4 separate regions of the Homo sapiens genome follow, and all the other regions are linked to region 1. Evidence: fine-mapped expression QTL. A gene starts in region 1. Each other region holds a variant in brackets. All regions are shown on one strand. Distances are from middle to middle. Region 1 holds the start of ATP8A1 (ATPase phospholipid transporting 8A1). Region 2 has its middle 79 kb from the start of GRXCR1. Region 3 overlaps ATP8A1 (ATPase phospholipid transporting 8A1). Region 4 has its middle 52 kb from the start of ATP8A1-DT.

Region 1 (5,161 bases):
CTCTGCTCCCTTCTGCTTTTACTCTAAATCTCTAACTTTAATGTTTTCAAGAGAGATATGATTAACACAGAGACTCTTTTTGAGCCAAACCACAAGGTTACAAGTGTCTGAGTCACATAAGAATTGGTTGACCCTGGGTCAGGAGCCAACCATAGTCCAATCAGCTGAGGCCAAAAAGGCTGCAGTTCAGAACAAGGCCCTCTAGGCAGCAGGGCCTCTCTCAAAGGAGAATATTCCTTAGGAAAGGTAGGACTATATTTTTTAGGAAAGAAATATTTCCTAGGAAAGAAAAGTGTGGGCAGAGCAGGCAATGAGCCACAACGCCAGCCCCACAGAGTCATTATTTGTCTTCACCACAGTCCCAAGCACATGCTGAAGCTATAATAAACTGGAATCAACTAATCTCAGGGGAAAGGGTCATTCACTCACCAAGCACCACTATGGCCCTGACACTGTGCTGGACGCACAGGGAATACAAAGATTAAACAAGCAGCAGTCCTTGTTTTCCCAGAGCTCTTAATCCAAATGTGTCACTGAACTAGTTACTTGACCTTGGGCAAATTACTAAACCATATGGGCCACAGTTTCCTCAACTATCAGATGGCACTCCACCTTCACCAACCTCCAGGAGTGTTGTAAGTTTCCATAAAGTAATCTTTGTAAAAGTACTTTGGAAAATACACAAGCCAATCAAGAACAATACTGCAGCCCTGTAATCCCCTCACATGCCACAGGTTTTGCAGTGCTCTCAGACTTTTTCTCTTCCCCTTATTTCCCACAATATAGGACCCATCAATTGCTATTATTTAAAAGAACACCACCAACTATTACCATTCTACTTTCACTATCTCTATGACTAATTTCACTCAGAAGTGTAAAAAAAATGAATTTTTACAGTGTGCATTTTAAAAGTATAATGTATTCAACTGTGTATGTAAAACTATAATGCCCTATATAAGTATTTTTTGGGTATTACAAATGACAGCATGTACCGAATTCCTATGTAGTACACAGGCCAGTTTTGAATCTTGCTTCGTCTTCTCCCCACAGCAGTTTCATTTAATATTTCCTAAATACTGCAATCAGAAAATTTCAGGGACCCTATTTTTACAGGGAGCCCCTAAGGAGAAAAAATGGCCTGTCTCCATCCCTGAAATCCAATTCTCCTAACTTATATATTTTTCTAAAACCACTTCACCACCTGTCTCACATTAAAAGATGGAGGTGGGGAGGAAGAGTGGGAATCAGCGATGATGGCAAGATAGATTTCTGAAAAACATGTTATTCCACCCTCTGCAGGATTCAAGTACAGGTTTATGGGAGAGGACAAACAAACCTTGGGATATTTACAGTCTTGGCTTTGACGCGAGCAAAATCAAATAATATTTACAGAGTGCCTGCCACATGGCAGGCAGGATGTTGAGGGCTCCTCGGAGACGATGAAGAGTCTGGGCCCTCGGAAAGCTTACTTGCTTCTACCCCGGAGCATCTGTTGCTCAGTGTTGACAACCATGGCCATTCAAGAGCTGGCCCCAGGTGGAGCAAAGAAAACAGCTTCCACCTGGCTGAAAAGTCAGCTCAGCTGGCCGAAGTGAGGGTTTCGGGCAAAAGGGAAACACAAAAACGAAACCTCAGACGCGAGCCGGTGGGACTCCGCTGCAGGAGGCAGAATTGCAGAAGCTGTAATGCAGGGAACCCACTCGGCACCCGACCCCGATGAAGGCTCCCCGCGCTTCGAGAGCCAAGGGACTACGGATCAAAGGATCCTGCAGCCGGGGAAAAGCAAACTCGCTTCGCTGGGAGCTCAGATAGGGGGTTGCAAAACGGTGGGCGCCGGAGGCAGGGGCGGCGGGCTGGGGATCTGCTGAGTGGAAATCGAACTGGTGGGGAGGGAGGTGGGCAGGGCGAGTGAGCTCAGTGACTGGGACCTAATGGTCACACTGCGGTGCAAAGCACGCCTCGGGGCTCCCGCGGAGAACACCCATTCGAGGGTACTGGAGCCTGGAAAGGGTCTGCGAGTACACTGGGGGCAGCGCGGGGGGAAGGGTCCCCTAGGGGCCGGGCGCGACAGTCGGACTGCCGCCGGGGAAGAGGTAGGATGCGGTCTCTTCCAGGATAAACACACACGCTCACACACACACTCGCTTCCCGACCCCGGGCTAGCCCCGAGCCTCGGCGGCCCCTTACCTTCGGCGCGCGAGCGGATCTCCGACACGGTCCTCCGCATGGTGGGCATCGCGGCGGCGGCTGCAGGTGGGTCCTCAGCCCGGACTCTGCACCTGTCACGGCGTGGTACACGCGGGAGACCCGGCTGCGCCGCGCAGAGCGCTCAGCTGCAGCCTGGGCCGCGCCGCCGCCCACCTAGGGCAGAGCTGCCGCCGGGCGCGGCCCCCGCACGCCGACAGGAGGAGGAGAAAGGCAGCGGTGGCGGCGAAGGTGGCGGCGCCCGCAGAGCTGGGCGAGCTCTTGCTGCAGCCGCGGAGGGGCGGCTCGGCGAGGGGCGGAGCTCGGGCGCCGGCGCCGGGGGAGGGGCCTGCGGGGCTCGCGCTCCCCCTCCCGCGGCCGCTCAGCAAGGAAGGCGGGTGAGGGGCGGGGAGAGCCAGGGGGAGCCTCCTTCGCCCCGCCCCGCCCCGCTTCGGACCGTATCACGACTCAAAGGGGGGATCAACTCTTAGCCTCCTTAGTCCTCCAGCGTTTTCGCTCCGCCCTGTGGAGTTGGTTGACCCGGTTCCTCCTCCAGGCCACTCGGACTCTCTCACATCTTGCTCAGAAAGGAAAGACTGCTCTGGCTGCTGCATTCTCACGAATCCCCTCCCGCTACCCCTGGCTTTTGATCGCAGTGGAGCCGCCCGTCGTCCGGAAAGAGCTGTTGGGTCTGAGCCGGCAGGCGAAGGCGAAAGGGTCTGGGACTACAAGGTTTAGCTCCCAGCCAGAGCAGGAAAGGAACGACTGACTGTTCGCCATCTGGGTGTAATTCTAACCTCTCTGCACGCCCAGCCCGACTCGTGGCCTGAGCCGCACTTGTCCTCCTGCCTCGCCCACTAGCAACAGGCTGCCAGGTCGGGAGGCCCCTGGTGCCCATGGTGCTCTTGTCCATGGGGCTTGGGTGCATCTGGGCCCCGCCTGCAAGTGGGCCCGGTGCATCTCCCTAGTTCAGGCTCTGCAGCCTGACAAGGCACTGAAATAGCAATTAAGCCAACTAAGTATTGGCCCAGGTGGTTCACAAAAGACTTTTTTTTTTTCTTTTAGTTAAATCTGCATAAAGTTGGATGCAGTCGTTTTATCTGCAAAGGGGAGAGGAGTCTTTGTATAAAATCCATAAATATGTTAAATTTTAATTTGCCGATGTCCTTCAGACTATCATAGCCTCATTACCTTTTATTTTGTATACCGAGATCTATGCTAAAAAGTTGTCAAAACAAATACTTCACCTTCAAGTTAAGATGTAAGGTTTTGTGCTGTTTCTGGCGAGCTGCTGAACTGGCAGGAAAGGAATAAACCAGAAACAATAAATCAGAAGCAATTTGCTTCTTCCCTCATTTCATGCTCTTCCTCCAGCAACCAGCGAAAGAGATCCTCACATAGAGGCCTTTTATTTGAGATCTTTTCACATCCTGAAGGGAGAGAGCTGGAGAGGTTTGACCTGAGAGAGAAGTGATTATTTCCAAGCCTCAGGAAAAAATGAAATAAAATCTGCTAATAGCGTCCTATCTCCATTTGTGGTATTTCTTCTGCTTCCTGCAGGTAGCACTTGCTAATCAGAGCCCTGCCCTACATTAATACTCAGGCAGTCAATGCATATTTATGAAGAGCCCACTCTAGTTGGCTCTGATTCAGAGGCTGGAATTAGAACAAAGAAAATGTATTCTCAGTGTTCATGGAACATCTCAGGGTAAAGCAGGACTCAACAATAAATGAATCTATCTGTTTCAGTGATAGTCATGATTTAAAGTATGGTCTTCTAAACGTAAAAAATGAACACAGCTTTATCTGGACTGTCATCACTGGGCATTTTTATTTCTTCCAAGGCCCAGGGTCTCCTTGTATAAAGCAGGCTTGCTCTGGCTTAATGAACATGAGTCTGAAACAAAATTAAAGGGCTAACATAGCAAGGAAAATAGTAAAAATAATAATCAGCTTTAAAAGTTAGCGAACAGAAACTGGAGGAAATGCAGTGCTTTTCTGATTAACATTTTAGGTGTAATTCTATATGAAGCCATAACCAGTTCTTATTAAAAATCAGTGCGCAGCAGCATGACGATAGTTCATTTATGAGCAATCACCTTTGTAATTCCTAATTAGTCCTCAGATGGGGTTGAGGTTCAATTCTGCTTATTTACAAGTAATAACTGAAGGAACTCCAGAAGTTACCTCTGTTTTGTATAGAGCAATCCATTTTTTACATGTGTGTCCCATTAACTCATCAGCAAAGTTGAAAACGTCATTGATACAGGAAACAAGTCACTTATACAGAGAAGAATATTGCATGATATAGTCTATAGATTACCGTGTGTCCTTTCCCTGATATTATCACTTTATCCATAATGGCAAGCGTATCCCAACTACCTTATTTCTTAAAAACCACTCATTCCTGACTGCTAGAAATCACACATTTTTATTGGTTCAGAACTTGATTGAAGTTGAGGATTGCATTAATCTGCATCTGCTTGATTTTAAGGCTCTCAGATCGTCTCACCTTCTATTGTGTGAGAAGTGCAATGTGCCAGCCCCTGGCAGGGAACTCCGGTTCCAGCCACATGACTTTGTCACGGAATCTGTAGTAGAATTCAGATGTCAGCAAGATCATTTAAAATCTTTCAGGTCATATGACTATACTGCTGATAGACTTAGAAGGAAGAGGGTTATTTAAGGACAACTTCCCTAAGATCCAGGTTTTATCCTCCACAAAATGTACATTGAATACGTAACACGTGTGAGGTGCTGAGCCAGAGAACTAGGTTATAGAGGCACTTAATGAAAGCTAAACAGCAGTAGCAACAAGATGGCTAATATGTCATGCCAAATAGACAAGCAGCAACTATGGACTTTGAGAGAAAGCTAAGTTTCTAAGAGCTAGGGTGATCAACATTGTTGAGCTAGATCTTAAAGTAGGGGTTAATTCTATAGAAATAAAAAGGAGACCTCTTTCTAGTGGGAATGC
Region 2 (5,161 bases), 160 kb after region 1:
CATTTTCAGTAAAATGTGAAGCAAGCTGAGAATGAGGAAAGGGAGAATGTGCTGGAGGTTAGAAAAGAGGAGAGGCATAGAATAACCATTTTAGAAAGTGAGAGAGTAAATATACTAGAAGAATATCGTAGGATTATCAGGCAGTATTGAGTATCCATTGGAAGTCTGTAGTAGTAGGCTCACCCAATATGGCAAGCATCACCATTAGACCCAGAGAAGAGCAGTAGCTTGAGACCAGTCCTTTAGAGAGCACTGTTCTGGCCCTTTCTGATATGACCTCTAATGAGACAAAGAATCTATGAGCTTGAGGGGACATGGCCACCAGGAGCTCTTATCCTCTCCTCCTCTATCTAGATTATGTTCTGTGTACTTGGGATCCTGGGGTCCAAATGACCCTGATCCTATTTCCAGGGTCCATGTTGGATACTTTTCTGAGTCCTTCCTCCTTTGGGTGGGCTTCCCTGCAGGTGTCTGCACTTTGAGGTCCTCGCTTGCAGGGATGTGATGGAACTTGCACATGTAGGCTGGGCTGTCCATGTATGTGTGGAAGGCCCCTCACAGTGTCATGTGCAAGTAAGATGGGAAAGGTCTGGACTGTGATTTGAGGGCTGGGGACTTGTTTTCTGGATACCATCACATTTTAGTCAGTGTGAAATTCAAAGAAGTCTGAGAATTCTGTTTGTCCTTGGACTTCCAGGTAATTAAGAACATATTTGTCAACATAGGCACATAAAACATGACTATATTTAACAGTTTATTAGCTTGATATATACATTTTCAATATTTAGACATGTGATATGTAACTCCTCTTGCCCCAGGCTCCAGAATGTTTGGGGTGCACCTGAGCATGACCAGAGATACATAGCAGTGCTGTCCAACCGGACTTTGTGCAACCATGGAAGTGTTTCTATACAGTACAATACAGTAACCCCTAGCCACATGTGGCTATTGAGGCTTTGAAATGTAGTTAGTGAGACTGAGGAAGTGAACTCTTAATTTCATTTAATTTTAATTAAATTTAAATAGCTACATGTGCTTAGTAGTCACCATTTTGGACATGCAGATCTATGGACTTGTCTCTTTTTCCAAGCAGCTTTCTAGTGATAGAGGCCAATTGGGTTCAGTTCTATCACAATAATGACTCTTTTCCCCTCTGCATGGTCTCACCAGAGCTTGTCAGGTCTCAGAACCCACTGGCCTCTACCAGGCTCACACCCTGTACTATTCCACCTTGCTGTCCTTTCTTGGTCTGGAAGAACACTTTCAGTCTCCCCAGGGCTTGGATAATTTGAATTCCTGCTCTATTCCATGCTTTGTTATGGAATAAACTATCCACTAGTTACTACTTCCACTAGAATCTTCCCTTTTACAGCTCAAGATATGTATTTTTTTTTTGTTCTCAACAAAATAACACTCTGCAAATCAATGACTTTGACTTTCAAAGTGATTGCTTCTGATGAGGACTTCAAGAGTTTATTCTGTGAACTTAAAAAGAATACCCTGAAAATTGATTGTTCTCTTTTTGATTTTCTATTATAAAAATTCTGACTCCTCAAGGTCGTAAGAATTCTTCTTCACTATCTCCACAAAGGTTCACATACAATGTGCTTTCTGAAAAGTATAAAATTTAATATTTCATGACAAAGTATTTCAAACAGAAAGTGACAAAAGTTTTTGTGTGCTTGTACCAGCAATAATACTCTAAAGATGTCCATCACTGTGATAGGAGAGTGAAGCAGAGGTGACTTAGAATAGAGATGGGAAATGTGGATGAAGCTGGGTATACCCCTTGTGAACCTCCACTTTCAGTGGGCACAGGAATGTGTGCTCCTCTCCCATGCTGGAGTATAGGGAAGCCAGTGAACTCACAATAATATGAGATAGACAAAGCTATGAAGGAAATAAGTGAAGATTGCTTTAATCCCTCCATTCTTTTTTGAATTGCTCAGATCACATGTGCCACATTTCCAGAACTGCTAGAGTTCTTCTCATTTCTCTGCTCCTTGACCTCAAAGCACTTATAGTATATTTGGGGAGACAGGTACTAAACAATGAATATTTATACAAAAATATAATTAGAAATTGTCCAAGAGCCATAAATTGAAAGGAAAGAATGCCACTGGGGAGAATCATGGAGCTGTAGAGGAGAGGCTGAATGTGAAGTGATGTTTCTACAGTGTACGAAAGTTGAGTAGGGATTAGACAGAGTGGGAGGAAGAGAATTCTAGGGCAAGATCCTGAGGAAGCAAAGGGGCTGGTGTGTTGAGGAAGAGAAAAAAGGACCGTTTGCTTCAGGAAGACCGAGTGGTGACAGAGTGATGTGAGAGGCAAGGTTCGAGAGGAGGACAAGGGCTTAGGAATGATTAGAAGCTGGGCTATTATTCTAGGTGCAGTAGAGAAACCACCAAAGGGTGTCATGCTGGTGGCAGGGTTACAATGGGATCA[C/A]ATTGACACCTTACAACGATTACTCCGGCTGTTGTGCAGAGAAGAGGATGAGAAGGTAGGAGGCAAGAGTGAAGGAGGTGAGAGCCCACTTAGGACACCACTGACAGAATAAAGCCAGAGAGGGTCATGTGTGACAGAATAAAGCCAGAGAGGGTCAGAGTACTGACAATGGAGACCGAGAAAACTTGACAAATTCACAATATATGTTAGGGCAGAGTCTTTCAACCTTGGCCCTTGTATTAGTTCGTTTTCATGTTGCTAATAAAGACATATTCCACTAGACATATTCCACAGTCCATTACAGAGACTGGATAGTTTACAAAGAAAAAGAGGTTTAATGGACTCAGTTCCACATGGCTAGGGAGGCGTTACAATCATGGCAGAAGGCAAAAGACACATCTTACATCGCAGCAGGCAAAAGACAGAATGAGAACCAAGTGAAAGGAGTTTCCCCTTACAAAACTATCCGATGACATGAGACACTACCATGGGAAAAGTATGGGGGAAACCACCCCCATGATTTAATTATTTTCCACTGGGTGCCTCCCACAACACATGGAAATTATGAGAGCTGCAATCCAAGATAAGATTTGTGTGGGGACACAACCAAACCATATCAGCCCTCTTGAAATTTTGGACCAGATAATTATTTGTTGCGGGGTTTGTTCTGTTCATTGTAGAATGTGTAACAACATGCCTGACCCCTTCTTCTGCCGGTAGCATTCCCCAGCCCAACCCCCAATGCCCTCCATCAATTTGTGAAAACTTAGAATGTCTCTAGACATTGCTAAATATCTCTTGCATAGTAAAATTGCCCTCGATTGAGAGCCACTATATTAAGGGGACAATTCACAGATACAAACAGCAGATTAGATGTGGAAAGATAAGGAAATGGAAGGTGTCATGAATGACATTTATTTGATCAAGGAAGTAGGTGGATATGTGATTATAGGAATGCAATGACTTGAGGAGACTATTTGGGGCATGTGTAGAAATATTAAGAGTTTGTTTTAAACACAGTTAATCTAGATGCCTCGAAGACTTCAAGGAGAGATATCAAGGAGATGGTTGCTTATTGTACTAAGAGATCTTGGCTGGAAATATGAAGAGCCATGGGGTTTGGATGTGATCACTGATAGAGAGAATGTAAATGAGAACAGAAGAGCTTTGGGAATTGAATATAGAAAAATCTATTATTTCCAAAACCAGCAGAAAATGTCATGAAAAGGGAAAAACACCCCAGCATGCTTTTCAAGAAGAAGAGAGTAAACTAAATTGAATATGACTCAAAGTTCTAGTTATATGAGGATTGAAAAGTGTCCATTGGAATTGGCAAAAAGGGAGGTAACTGTAAAACTTAGCTGGTGGGTAGAGATATTTAATGGAATAGAAGGGGCTGAAATCATAATGGGGTGGGCTGGAATGAGAATGAAAGTTGGAAAACCATGTGTGTAGACTATTATTTCAAGAGTTTTTTCCAACCAAGTGAGGAGGAAGGAAGCAATTAACTAAAAGGAGAGGTGGCATTGGCAGGGGGTTTCGGGGGGGTGCTTTGTAAAAACATGATAGTAAGAAACATGATTCAATTTTGCTAGGAAATGATCCAGTAAATAGTAAGAGAAGTTCAAAATAGGGGAAAGAGAATAACAGATTCACCAAAGTTCTCTGGTAGGTATGACACTTTTGGCTAGTAATTTGCTAGGGGAAATATACTTTCTTTATTATAACAGAGAAAATGATAATATTGATCATGATAGCTAACATTTATTGAGGGTTTATGATATGTCAGGCTTCTTACATGTTTTATCTCATTTAATCTTCTCCCCCAAAACTTATGAAATAAATCCTGTTAGTATACATACTGGAGAAATGAGAAAACAGGGTTAGAGTAACTTGTTTAAGTGGCAGAGCTTAGACTGTAATGGAACTCATTCCTGAATCCAGGTTAAGCCAACTTATTCCAGAGCCTAAGCTCTTAAAAGAAGCAGAGAAAAGGAATCCTGTCAATTAACCTACCAAAGAATTATTAAAACCCATTAACTCTTGCCTATTACCTTAAAGTTTTAAGACCAGCTTAATTTGAATGAAGGTTACCTCTCACAGTGAAATACTCCATGCTTCCCTATACTTGACCCTGTCCTAAAGTGATGACTGGTTTTCTCTCATCTTTTATTTTTTACTCAATTTGTTTGTTTGTTCATTTACATTTTTCTAAAGGAATCTTCTACACTAACAGCGAGCAGGTCTGGGCTCAGAAAAGATAGCCTGTCCTTTGAGTGGAAAGAATTACTCAGGGTGCTTACTTTTTGAGCTGGATTAGACACTGAGCAAATGTGTTTCCTGTTCTGGGCTCTAGGCCCTGCTTGCCAGAGCAGCTACGAATACTTATTACAGCCTTCCAGAGGCTGTTCGCAGAGTCTCCGAGATTGGTTAGTAATTGGCATAGAAGAAAATGCCATTGGCTTACCTTACTCTGGGCTTTTTGTTTATAATGCTAGCTTTATTCTCAAATCCTGGCAATGATTCTTTTCTAATAAGCAAGCATTCTCTGATATTTGATACAGTATCAAGCAGTACTTGTCCTATCTTGACCTTAATTTTCTTTTTAATCATTTACTTGAAGGACCTCGTGTGTGTGTGTGCACGCGTGTATGCCCATGTGTGTGCGTGTGTACCCCCACGTGTGTGCAAGTAAATGCATAAGGTTGTGTTTGTG
Region 3 (5,127 bases), 63 kb before region 1:
ATGAGGTTAATGTAGATTCAAAGGAGCTAAGTAATGCTAAAACCCTTTGAGGAAAAAAAATACTGAAAGGTGGTACTCTGCTACTTGGATTGAAATGTCTAGCAGCACAGCTTTTATTTTGAATTCTACTCAATAACAAAAAGCAATGAATCAGATAATCTTTTAAAAATATAATCTTGGAGGAAGTTAATCGCTGTGGAGACCATATTAAGACACAGAAACTATTTCGATAAATTGAAATTCATAGCCACCAGTAAGTGTTTTTAATGCTTATAAAACAAATTCTGTAAAAGTGGTCTAAAGTTTAAGAAATACAAGTAGCTTGCTGGGGAGTTTCTGAAGTTGGATAGAGTCAGACGGCAAAGATTTTGAAAATTTCCAACTTAAAATTAAATACAAATTCAGGGCAGTATAGTCGATTATCTTCACATTTTTGAGCATCAAAAATAAAAATTGTATTTAACGGTTCAGCCTATATGATTCATTCTATAATTATGTCTCTAAGAGTTTAATTGGGAAAACAATACTTTCCCAAATTGTTAGAAGGTGTTACTATCATTTTGAACTTATATACAGTCACGTGACAATGACAGGTGTAGCTTCTGAGGAATGCATTGTCAGGCATTTTTGTCACTGTGTGAGCATCATAGAGGGTACCTATACAAACCTAGATGGTATAGTCTATAGGCCATATGGTATAGCAGATTGCTCCTAGGCTACAAACCTGTACAGCATGTTACTGTATGGAATAGTGTAAAGAAACAGTAACACAATACTAAGTATTTGTGCAATAGGAATTTTTCTGCTCCATTATAATCTTATGGGACCACCGTTGTATATGTGTTTCGTAATTGACCAAAATGTTGTTATGCAGCACAAGACTTCAAACATTCAGATGGCCAAGTGTCCAATACATTCATCACATTTTTACTTAGTAAAACTGAATGGACACCATTCTGTAAGGTACTCTTAAAGCTTATCAATTTAAACAAAAAGAATTGGGGAATATTGGAATTTGATCATTTAATCCATCTTAATATAAAAGATGTGAAATCAAGGCATGAGAGATTAAGCAGTTGGTTCAAAATCACCAAATCAGAATAAGAATCCTGGCTTTTCACTCCCTAAAGAGAGCTCTTTCTAGTGCCTGATACTACCTAGAACCTGAGACAATGACAATAAGCTCTCCCTCAAGCTAATTCTGAAGACGCCAAGAATGGACGGTTAGCTTCACTCAGTTTTAGAGATTTATCCTGATAAAGTTATAAGCAAAGGAAACTAAGAACAGAGGGGGTGATTTGAAAACATCTATATTATTTTTTCTGAAAACAAAAACCTATAGGTACATGGCACAAAATTATAGAAATATAACTACCTGCAGTTACTTTAATTGGTTGTAGACTTACTTCTATAAATATCTAGTATAAATACTTTTATTTGTTAAGTTTCGCTAACTTGTCATGAATCAAATCACTTTAAATGATGACCTGATTAAATAAATTTTGAAAAAAGGACACTGTCCATATTCATATGTGGATTTACAAATAAACCTGTCCAAGGAAATGATGATAAACAACCTCTAAAATATTAAAAACAATTTTTCTTAATTTAAAATAGGACTAGTTTATAGTTTTTAAACCTAAAACCATTTGAAAGTCACATTCTTTAAAGAGTAACAGTGCCATATGTTCTGACTACTAATTCATGATTAAAATATGAGTAAAATGAAAATTATTTAAATTAAGTAACTGAAAGAACTTAAAAGAAAGAGCAAAGTACTTTTGTGTTGGAAGAGTATGGCATTTCAAAAGGCATAATGGCAAAAAGAATCATTCATCCATTTTTTTATACCATTCCATCATAATAATCAAGAAACTCTGTAGGGATTTATGACGAACAAGGACTGAAAGATAAAAAATATCAATAGAACCCAATCCATGTATTATATAAAATAAATGACAGGAAATCTTAAAAGAGTTATGATCCCCACAAAAGATCTGGATAGATCCAGAGGGAGAGTAGACTCTTAATTATATTTGAATGATAAAGTATAGTACCTATCACTTATTCTATATGGCAAACATGAAAAAGCCCTTTAAGTCCAATCAATTTTTTAAATGTTTAAATAAAAATTATTAGAGAGGTTTTAAATTCTTCGTTTATTCCTTATTTCCTTGGAGAAATCACAAGGTCAATGCAGGGTAGAGAAACCATCCTCTACACTGTTTGAGCATCAGTAGGCATCTCTACCTTGATGAGAGAAGTACAGTGTCAGCAGGTATATACTCTTTGCCTTTTATTATAACTATATCTCCAACATTTACCTGAAAGAAAACTGGGAATTGGTTAATTATCTGCATTGAAAGATAGTTACAAATATACAACCCATTGTAAAAAGCATAGAATACACAGTAAAAATGGTTATCGGCAAACAAGAACCACTTATCTTCACAAAATGGAAGAAAATTATCTAGGAGTGAGACCAGGGTTGGAGGAATCCTTTAAAAAAAATGAACATTGTATATTGGATATATAACTTATCTTGATAAAATCAATCTATTCTATCCACTTAATTGACACCTTAACTTCTCATATCCTCTCTGACATAAAAATATAAAGGAGGGATTTACCAATATAAATCTTTATCCTATTGAAGAAAATCTCAATGCAACTGGAGACGCTATCATATATAATTGCTCCTCACAATAACGCTTGTGAAACAAGTATTGCTTATAACTCATCATTTGGAGAGAAAGAAAATGAGTTTGAGATTCTGAGATTTTTGCTCAAGATCATGGGGAGTTGAAGAGCTTAGACTCAAATCCACATTTGACTGTCTGCAAATCCTGATTTTGCATAATTTTGTGAAACTATCAATGTATTTTAAATTAAAAATTAATCTCTTCATTGTACTACCTCTTAGCATTTTTCTGAGCCTGGCATAAAGATAAAGAGATACTATTTTCAAAAACTGATAGCAGTCATTTAAGTGACAGATGTGTCA[C/T]ATAGCTTTTGGCAAACAACACAGTAACTAAGCAACAACTTGGCTTAACTGAGTTGACCAAGTTACACTGTTAGCCGCTCCCTTTACATCATGAAAGTTGACCTCTTAGTAGACAAATGAGACTAAACATGAATTTCAATACTTAATAGATGGAAAAAAAAGACTTTCTAAATTAAAGCCTGTTTGTTCTTCCCCCTCCCTACTTTTCCTTGAACTCTAAAATAACACTATGAGGGTAAGAACAGAATAGTGTCTTTTGTGGGAATCATAATAAGAAATTACTGCAGAGGCAGCCCACTGCAGTCTATTATTTACCAAAAGAAGAGGTTAGAAAAGGTTGGGGCAGGGGTATTGTCTTTTTATTTATGACACGTATGCTTAAGTTCTGGGTCCCTTGATTCAAAAAATAATTCAGCTGAAATCTGAAAGTTGGACTAGCTGAAACTGGCAAATTACCAGGGATCTTGGAATCAAACACCCCCTACCTCAAAAAAGGGCAAAGAGGAAAAATTAAAAACTGCAAGTATAAATGTAAACTGGTCCTTAAAATAATGTGCTGTGATGGTACTGTGATTACACTCACTGAGAAAGATAATAAAATGTAAATTCTCTGAAATCATGGCACTTAGAATGCATCCAGGTTACCATTTAATTTTCTTTAATCAACTCCTGTATGTTAATGTTTCCTCTTAAATTCAACTGTGTGCTTCACAAAATCAGAATCACGTCCTCTACACTATCGTGTTAGAGTCTAACAGTCAGACTTAAACAAATCCCTAATTGATTGTGCTGCTTTCCAACATCTTTACTCATTGTAAGACAAAAGAAGGGCTTGTGGTTCCTAAACTCAATAAAATAGTAACAATTTATATGGTACCCCAGTGGCCTGGGAAAACCAGGGGCTTACTAAATGCTGAAGTTCTTACTAAAGCATGCTAAATCAATGACTGCTAAAGTTCTTTACTGTAAGGAAAGTAGGGAACTTAACTCCTTAGAATGTCTATGTTTAAGATCAATTTCTCAAAAGACATCCAAACACCTGTCTTTCCTTTTGGATTCTGAGCTCCTAATACGGCATTCCCCTTCCAGCCTAGTGTGTGCATAAGAGGAACCAAGAGAAGAAAAAGTCAAGATGACAAAAATGCTTTAATCATACATATTCTAATTGGAGGAATGTCATGATAAAGCAATTTTAGTCCCCAAAATGCCAAAGTTAAGGAAATGTTTAGGGCTTTCAGTCCACTACCTACAGCCTTCTGAAGTCACTCATATTTGCAACATCAAGGATTATGTAAAATAGTAAGATTATCAGACTGCAATAGCCTGATTTAAAAATCCAACTATTAGCTGGGCATGGTGGCTCACACCTGTAATCCCCGTACTTTGGGAGACTGAGGCGGGCGGATCACCTGAGGTCAGGAATTCAAGACCAGCCTGGCCAATATGGCGAAACCCTGTCTCTACCAATACAAAAATTAGCTGGGCATGGTGGCAGGCACCTGTAATCCCAGCTACTCAGGAGGCTGAGGCAGGAGAAACGTTTGAACCCAGGAGGTGGAGGTTGCAGTGAGCCGAGATTGCGCCACTGCATTCCAACCTGGGCAACAGAGCGAGACTCCATCTCAAAAAAAAAAAAAAAAAAGAAAAGAAAAAAGAAATACATATTGTGGTGGAAGCTTCATGCACAAAAGTGGCTTTACAGAGTAACTTTTACACATGCATACAGCCCACCATGCTTCCTTAATAAGCCAGAAGAATACGTTGATTCCAAGATTCTTTGGCTAAATTCTCCACCTGCATACATCTCAAAAACCTGTGAACAGTGTTAGCTGCACCTCATTGTAAAGAAATAATCTGTGGCAAGAGCAATGAAGCCAGCAGCTTACCGTTCAGGAGTCACAATGTAGTTCCTTGTGTAGGGCTTTGTGATTACCATACTTTCTTTTAAAACTATGTATCTGCAAGTTAACCTTTTGCAACAGGGAAAAGGTTTCAGGGCAGTAACTGGAGAGATAAACCACTAATATCTGAGAGCTGAAGTCTGCCCAGCTGTGAATGATTAGATGCATGCTAGGCAAATTTGTAGGTCCTTTGAGGATCATTAAAGAGCAACCACAGTAGCC
Region 4 (5,161 bases), 53 kb after region 1:
ATTTTCTTAAAGAAAAATACTAGATATTTACGTATAAACAATACTATTTTTTTCTGTCATATTTGCGACTAATAAATTTCAATGCTACTTTTTAAAGTCTTTTAAATTCAGTTAATGTTTATTAAAGGAGAGATATAAAATGCTTATATTGTCAAATTTACTAACCATAAATGTTGGGATTTTTTTCCCATTGCTTTTAAGTGTATAAAATGTTTTCTATCCTGAGATCCAGAGACTGGGATCAATAACCACCTTCATTTTCTTCTACTTTATTTTTTGTTTAACTTAATTAGGTATATGGTATGAGGAAAGTCTCTAAATCCGTAATTATTTTCTAAATAGCCACTGTAGATCTTTGTTATTTATTAATCTTTTTCTTTTGCATTGATTTGTAGTGTCTTATTCATTATATAATTACACAAACAAAAATAATATATGTATTTTTAACTTACCCTGTTTCACTGGTGCCAGAAATGTTTTTGTAGCAGAATATTTGCTTGTGATGAGGAATTTTGTTGAAAAGTATTTGGATGTCCTTCTGGCACAGTTATCACCATTTATTACCTAGAGATAAAAACATTTCTCTCTTTTTTAAAAAGTGAATTTAGAAAATGCTTCTCCACATGAATGTCCTGTAAGCACTTCAAACTCAGTATGCCCAAAAGAAACCCATCATTTTGTAGCCTCATTACAACTCTCCTCCTGTAATGTTTCCCAGGACGGTTAATGGTGTAGCTTTTATCCAATCTCCCTAGCTACAAACCTCAGCATCACTTTCCTTCTGCATTTCTTCCGCTATTCCCCAGTGTTTGCTAATCTGTCCTGCAATGTTACCAGAATCAGTTTTTTTTTTTAATTTTTAATTTTATTTTTAATTTAATTTTTTTTTGGAAGACGGAGTTTCGCTGTTGTCACCCAGGCTGGAGTGCAGTGGCACAATCTCGGCTCACTGTAACCTCTGCCTCCCGGGTTCAAGTGATTCTCTTGCCTCAGCCTCCCGAGTAGCTGGGGTTACATGCGGCTGCCACCGTGCCCGGCTATTTTTTGTATTTTTAGTAGAGATGGGGTTTCACCATGTTGGCCAGGCTGGCCTCAAACTCCTGACCTCATGTGATCTGCCCGCCTCGGCCTCTCAAAGTGCTGGGATTACAAGCGCGAGCCACCGTGCCCGGCCCAGAATCAGTTTTCTCCATTTGTTGCCACTGCCTCTACTCTCAGGGTTGCACCTTCTCTACCCTGGATGCTGAGAACAGCTCCAGCCTCTCACCTGTCCATCCTCTGCATAGGTATCAGTTATCTCCCTAAATTACAGATTCAAATACATTACTTCTTCTGCTCTTAATCCTTGAGTGGCTTCCCATCATCTTTGGAATAGAGTTCAAACTCATTAACATGATATTCAAAGCTGAACACAAGGTAGGTCTACAGCAAACTTTCTTTTCCCCACTCTTCACTCCTGGCTGCCCATGAAACCTGTGTTCTGTCACCCAGGTAAATGGCTCACCTTTACTTTTGAATATTTACACATCCTTTTCCCTTGAGCTGTTTTGCGCATAAACACCTTTCCCTCTCTGTTTGCATAACCCACACTTTAAGTCCCAGATCAAATATCTTTGGCTCTTGAAAGCTCTCCTTATCCATTCAGTCAAACTTAATTGCTGGGTGCTCTATGCTCCTATTGAATTTGTGCACACATTTATCATAGCCCAGATTACCTTCTAAATTATTTAAGTTGGAGTGTATCTGGTGAGACAGTACTTTTTAAGAGGACTAAACTGGCCATCTGTCTTTGTAGAAACAGAATATTACTTTTTTGCAGATTTTTTTTTTTGTTCTGGGGAATAACCCAAATATTTTCTCTTAGTTGTACAACTGCAAGGTGAATTTGCACCTGCAGTGTGAAGTATATGTAACTCCTGTCCCTCTAGTACCCCTCAACATTCAGAACTAATCCCTGGTGAAGAGGTAGCTATGTTTGCAGAGAGGCCAAGGAATATCCTGAGAAGACATAGGGAGATGCCATCTCTTTCTTTCAGAGGTTTAGTGGTAGAATTTTTCTGATAGGTTGAGAAGGTCCTGCTGTGGTTCCCAGTCACAAAAGCTGTGAAGGACCGAAGGGGAGCTCGCTGTGAAGAGGGAAGACCTTACTAATGACCCAGACTCATTACCACTGTCCCTGTTTGTGGAGGTCAGTTGTTTGTGATAGAGCTTGAGTGTGGGCTAGAAACTTCTCTGATCTGACATCCTGTCATGGTGGGTTTGTGAGTGCAAACTAAAGGAGATGAAACTTTGGGAGCCCAAGCACGAATTATCACTGCAGCCTCTTCAAGAACCTGACTCAGCAAGGATGACTTAGCAACCAAAAGCAAGGACACATTTTCGATAATGACACACCAGGTGGTAGCAACAAAAGTAATGAAAATTATAAACCAAGTTTCACAGTGCCCTGATCAAACTCTCTAATTTTGTCTTGTGAACTACAAACGGTCCTCCTTGAACTGAATAAATGCCTCTCTTCCCAAGACTCCTGTTGCAGAAAGAGCTTAGATAACTCAGAAATGGGGCAATTCAATTGTTAAAAGTGTGACCATATTTGTACTCCAAGCTGGTTAAG[C/A]AGGTTTTCCAGGTTACACTTAGTTGTGTCTCCCCAGTGACCCTGTGAATGTTGGCAATGTGGGGAATAATCTTTATATCTCTCTGGTGATGAGAACGGTGATTTGAACATTATAAATATTTGAATTGAATTGTTTCCAGCCCATGTTTATTTTAATGTTTATAACTACCATCATGAAACATGTAACATTTAAACGTTTTGTATAAAACCATACTTTCCATTTGCAAACATGCCTGTAGCAGGTATGAGCCATTTGATATTAAATATGAAGCAGAGCTGCCTCTGCTCTTTGGGTCCCAAGCTGCAGTTACTACTGTATATTATCATTAGCAATATAATAAACCTCTTAGATATACAGTGTCATTACATTTTTGAAAAAGGTATTTTTGCCTACTTTGGTTGGAACTGGAGAAAATTTCTTCACAAAGTCAGCCCCCAGTTCTCTAGTTGCAAGTTTTTCAAATTTGCTTGGTCTTGCTCTGTTGTGTAGAAATCGATTACCATTCCCTGCAACTTAAAATATCATTTTTCTTGTTTAGAGAGGAGGTTTCTAAGTGTGCCCTACTATTGGAGAACGTTTATGCTGACCACCTATAATTTAGAATACATAAATCTGCTCCGGGGAACTTGTGCTGGCTCAGCATTTTCCTCCTAGTTCGTCAAAGAGCCTTTTGTGCCAGCTCTACATGGTCCTTATTGTTAGTTTCTTTTCTCTATTGTTGGCTGTTTACATGAAAGGAGATTCAGTGGATTGTTTGAATTTAACTTTTCATACCCTCTGTGAAACCACGTGCTCTATATTCCAGTGGTAAATATAATATCCAGTGGTTTTACTGAAATTTGCAAGAATTTTTATTAAAAGACCTACAGAGGTATTTCTGTAGGAAGCCAGTGCTGATCTAGCTACAATTCTATGTATGTACATTTATATATATGAATGAGTATATGAATGTATGTATCCCTCTCTATCAAACCAAGTATCTAATGGCTAGTAAATGTTTAACCATAGGATCTCCAGGCAGAAAAAAGCTCTAGTTATAAACTTTGTCAATTTCTGTACCATAGCTTCTCCCACTGTGGCTCATTTCAAGCTACCAGTATGTCAGCATTGAACACAGAGTTGGGAAGTGATGCACTGGAGAACACTTTATATGGTATTTTCACCATATAGACACAAAAGACTTAAGTCCCAGAGCACAGATAAAAGTACATAGTAAAATAACTAGAAAGCAGTCACTTTTGAGTATTTATAATCTTTGTTTGAGTGTAATTTATTTAATCATAAGCTTATGTAATTCAGGTTTTTTTGTTTGTTTGTTTGTTTGTTTTTTTTTTTTTTTTTTTTTTAAGATGTAGTCTCTCTCGGTCACCCTGGCTGGAGAGGAGTGCAGTGGCGCCATCCTGGTTCACTGTAACCTCTGCCTCTCGGGTTCAAGCGATTCTTCTGTCTCAGCCTCCCAAGTAGCTGGGATTACAGTTGCACGCCACCAGGTCTGGCTAATTTTTGTATTTTCAGTAGAGACAGGGTTTCGCCATGTTGGCCAGGCTGGTCTCGAACTCCTGACCTTGGGTGATCCGCCTGCCTCTGCCTGCCGAAGTGCTGGGGTTACAAGCATGACCCACTGCTCCAAGGCTGTAATTCAGTTTTTAATAATGGTCATGTTTAAGAACCACTTGCAAAATTCCTGAAAATTTAGCAGTTGGCTTACAGTTGGGATAAACTGGCTCCCATACAACACTGTATTAATCTATATACTTCTATCCACTTCCTTCCCTTTTCTAAGAAGAGTGGGCTCCTGTGGATGGGGAGATCTTTGTTTAACCTCATGTGTAGATAAGCTGGTATGGGGGATGAAGTAGGACTAAATTGCTGAGTGAGATAAAGGATGAAACTTTTGTGTGGGGGCAGTTGAGCACTAAGATTTTAGGAAGCTGGAGGCAAGAGTTAGCTTGTTCTATGATAGAAGGATGGAAAGGAACATTCCTTTCTTCCTCATTATGAAAACCATGGGGAAGACTTACATACTTTATTTATTTCATGCAAAGTTGAACTATTCAAATTTGGAATAGTATGATATAAAAATATTACTAGCCTCTTTTGTAATAGAAAGTTTAGAATATTATAATATACTGTTACATTTATTCCTATGGGATAATTATCTTTCCAGTTTCCTGAGTAGAATGACTGGTGTTTTCAGAAATGCATCAATCACATAAAACACTGTAGTTTGCCATCAGGTACTTGATGCAAATTCCTTTTTTCATTTCTTATATGAAATCTTTGGTAAAATCTACATTGCTTAGTAATGTCTTTAGTGGGAATGGATTCTGTTTGAGAGGAAAATAATGTAGAGTTCTAAATCATAGTTGAAGTGACTGAGACTATATGCTGGGTTATAAGAGGTATTTGAAAACAATGTTATCTAAGGCTGGAAATTAAATTACATTAGATGAAGTACAGAATCATCTGTTAAAAACCTAAATTTAGGCGGCATAGCATGGTGCTTCAGAGTACAGATCCTATAGCCCAACTATTGGAGTTCAATT

What was found.
Region 2: its variant is fine-mapped to the expression of ATP8A1 in subcutaneous fat (GTEx, PIP 0.99).
Region 3: its variant is fine-mapped to the expression of ATP8A1 in atrial appendage (GTEx, PIP above 0.99).
Region 4: its variant is fine-mapped to the expression of ATP8A1 in nasal epithelium (TOPMed, PIP above 0.99).

What each region holds. Positions count from the first base shown.
Region 1 is chr4:42,654,638-42,659,798 of GRCh38, forward strand. It overlaps ATP8A1 (ATPase phospholipid transporting 8A1), which reads right to left and starts at 2,468. Exons shown (of 37, transcript NM_006095.2): 1 at 2,188-2,468. The coding sequence starts at 2,236. ATP8A1-DT (ATP8A1 divergent transcript) reads left to right here and starts at 2,886. Exons shown (of 1, transcript NR_186688.1): 1 at 2,886-3,710. RefSeq lists enhancers at 1,655-1,704, 2,695-2,904 and a silencer at 2,195-2,664.
Region 2 is chr4:42,811,589-42,816,749 of GRCh38, forward strand. No RefSeq gene overlaps it. Among named protein-coding and RNA genes, the nearest start is that of GRXCR1, 79 kb to the right of the region's middle. The variant C/A (reference allele first, on the strand shown) is at 2,446.
Region 3 is chr4:42,592,039-42,597,165 of GRCh38, forward strand. All of the region lies in intron 6 of ATP8A1 (ATPase phospholipid transporting 8A1), which reads right to left. Among named protein-coding and RNA genes, the nearest start is that of ATP8A1, 63 kb to the right of the region's middle. The variant C/T (reference allele first, on the strand shown) is at 3,005.
Region 4 is chr4:42,707,240-42,712,400 of GRCh38, forward strand. No RefSeq gene overlaps it. Among named protein-coding and RNA genes, the nearest start is that of ATP8A1-DT, 52 kb to the left of the region's middle. The variant C/A (reference allele first, on the strand shown) is at 2,615.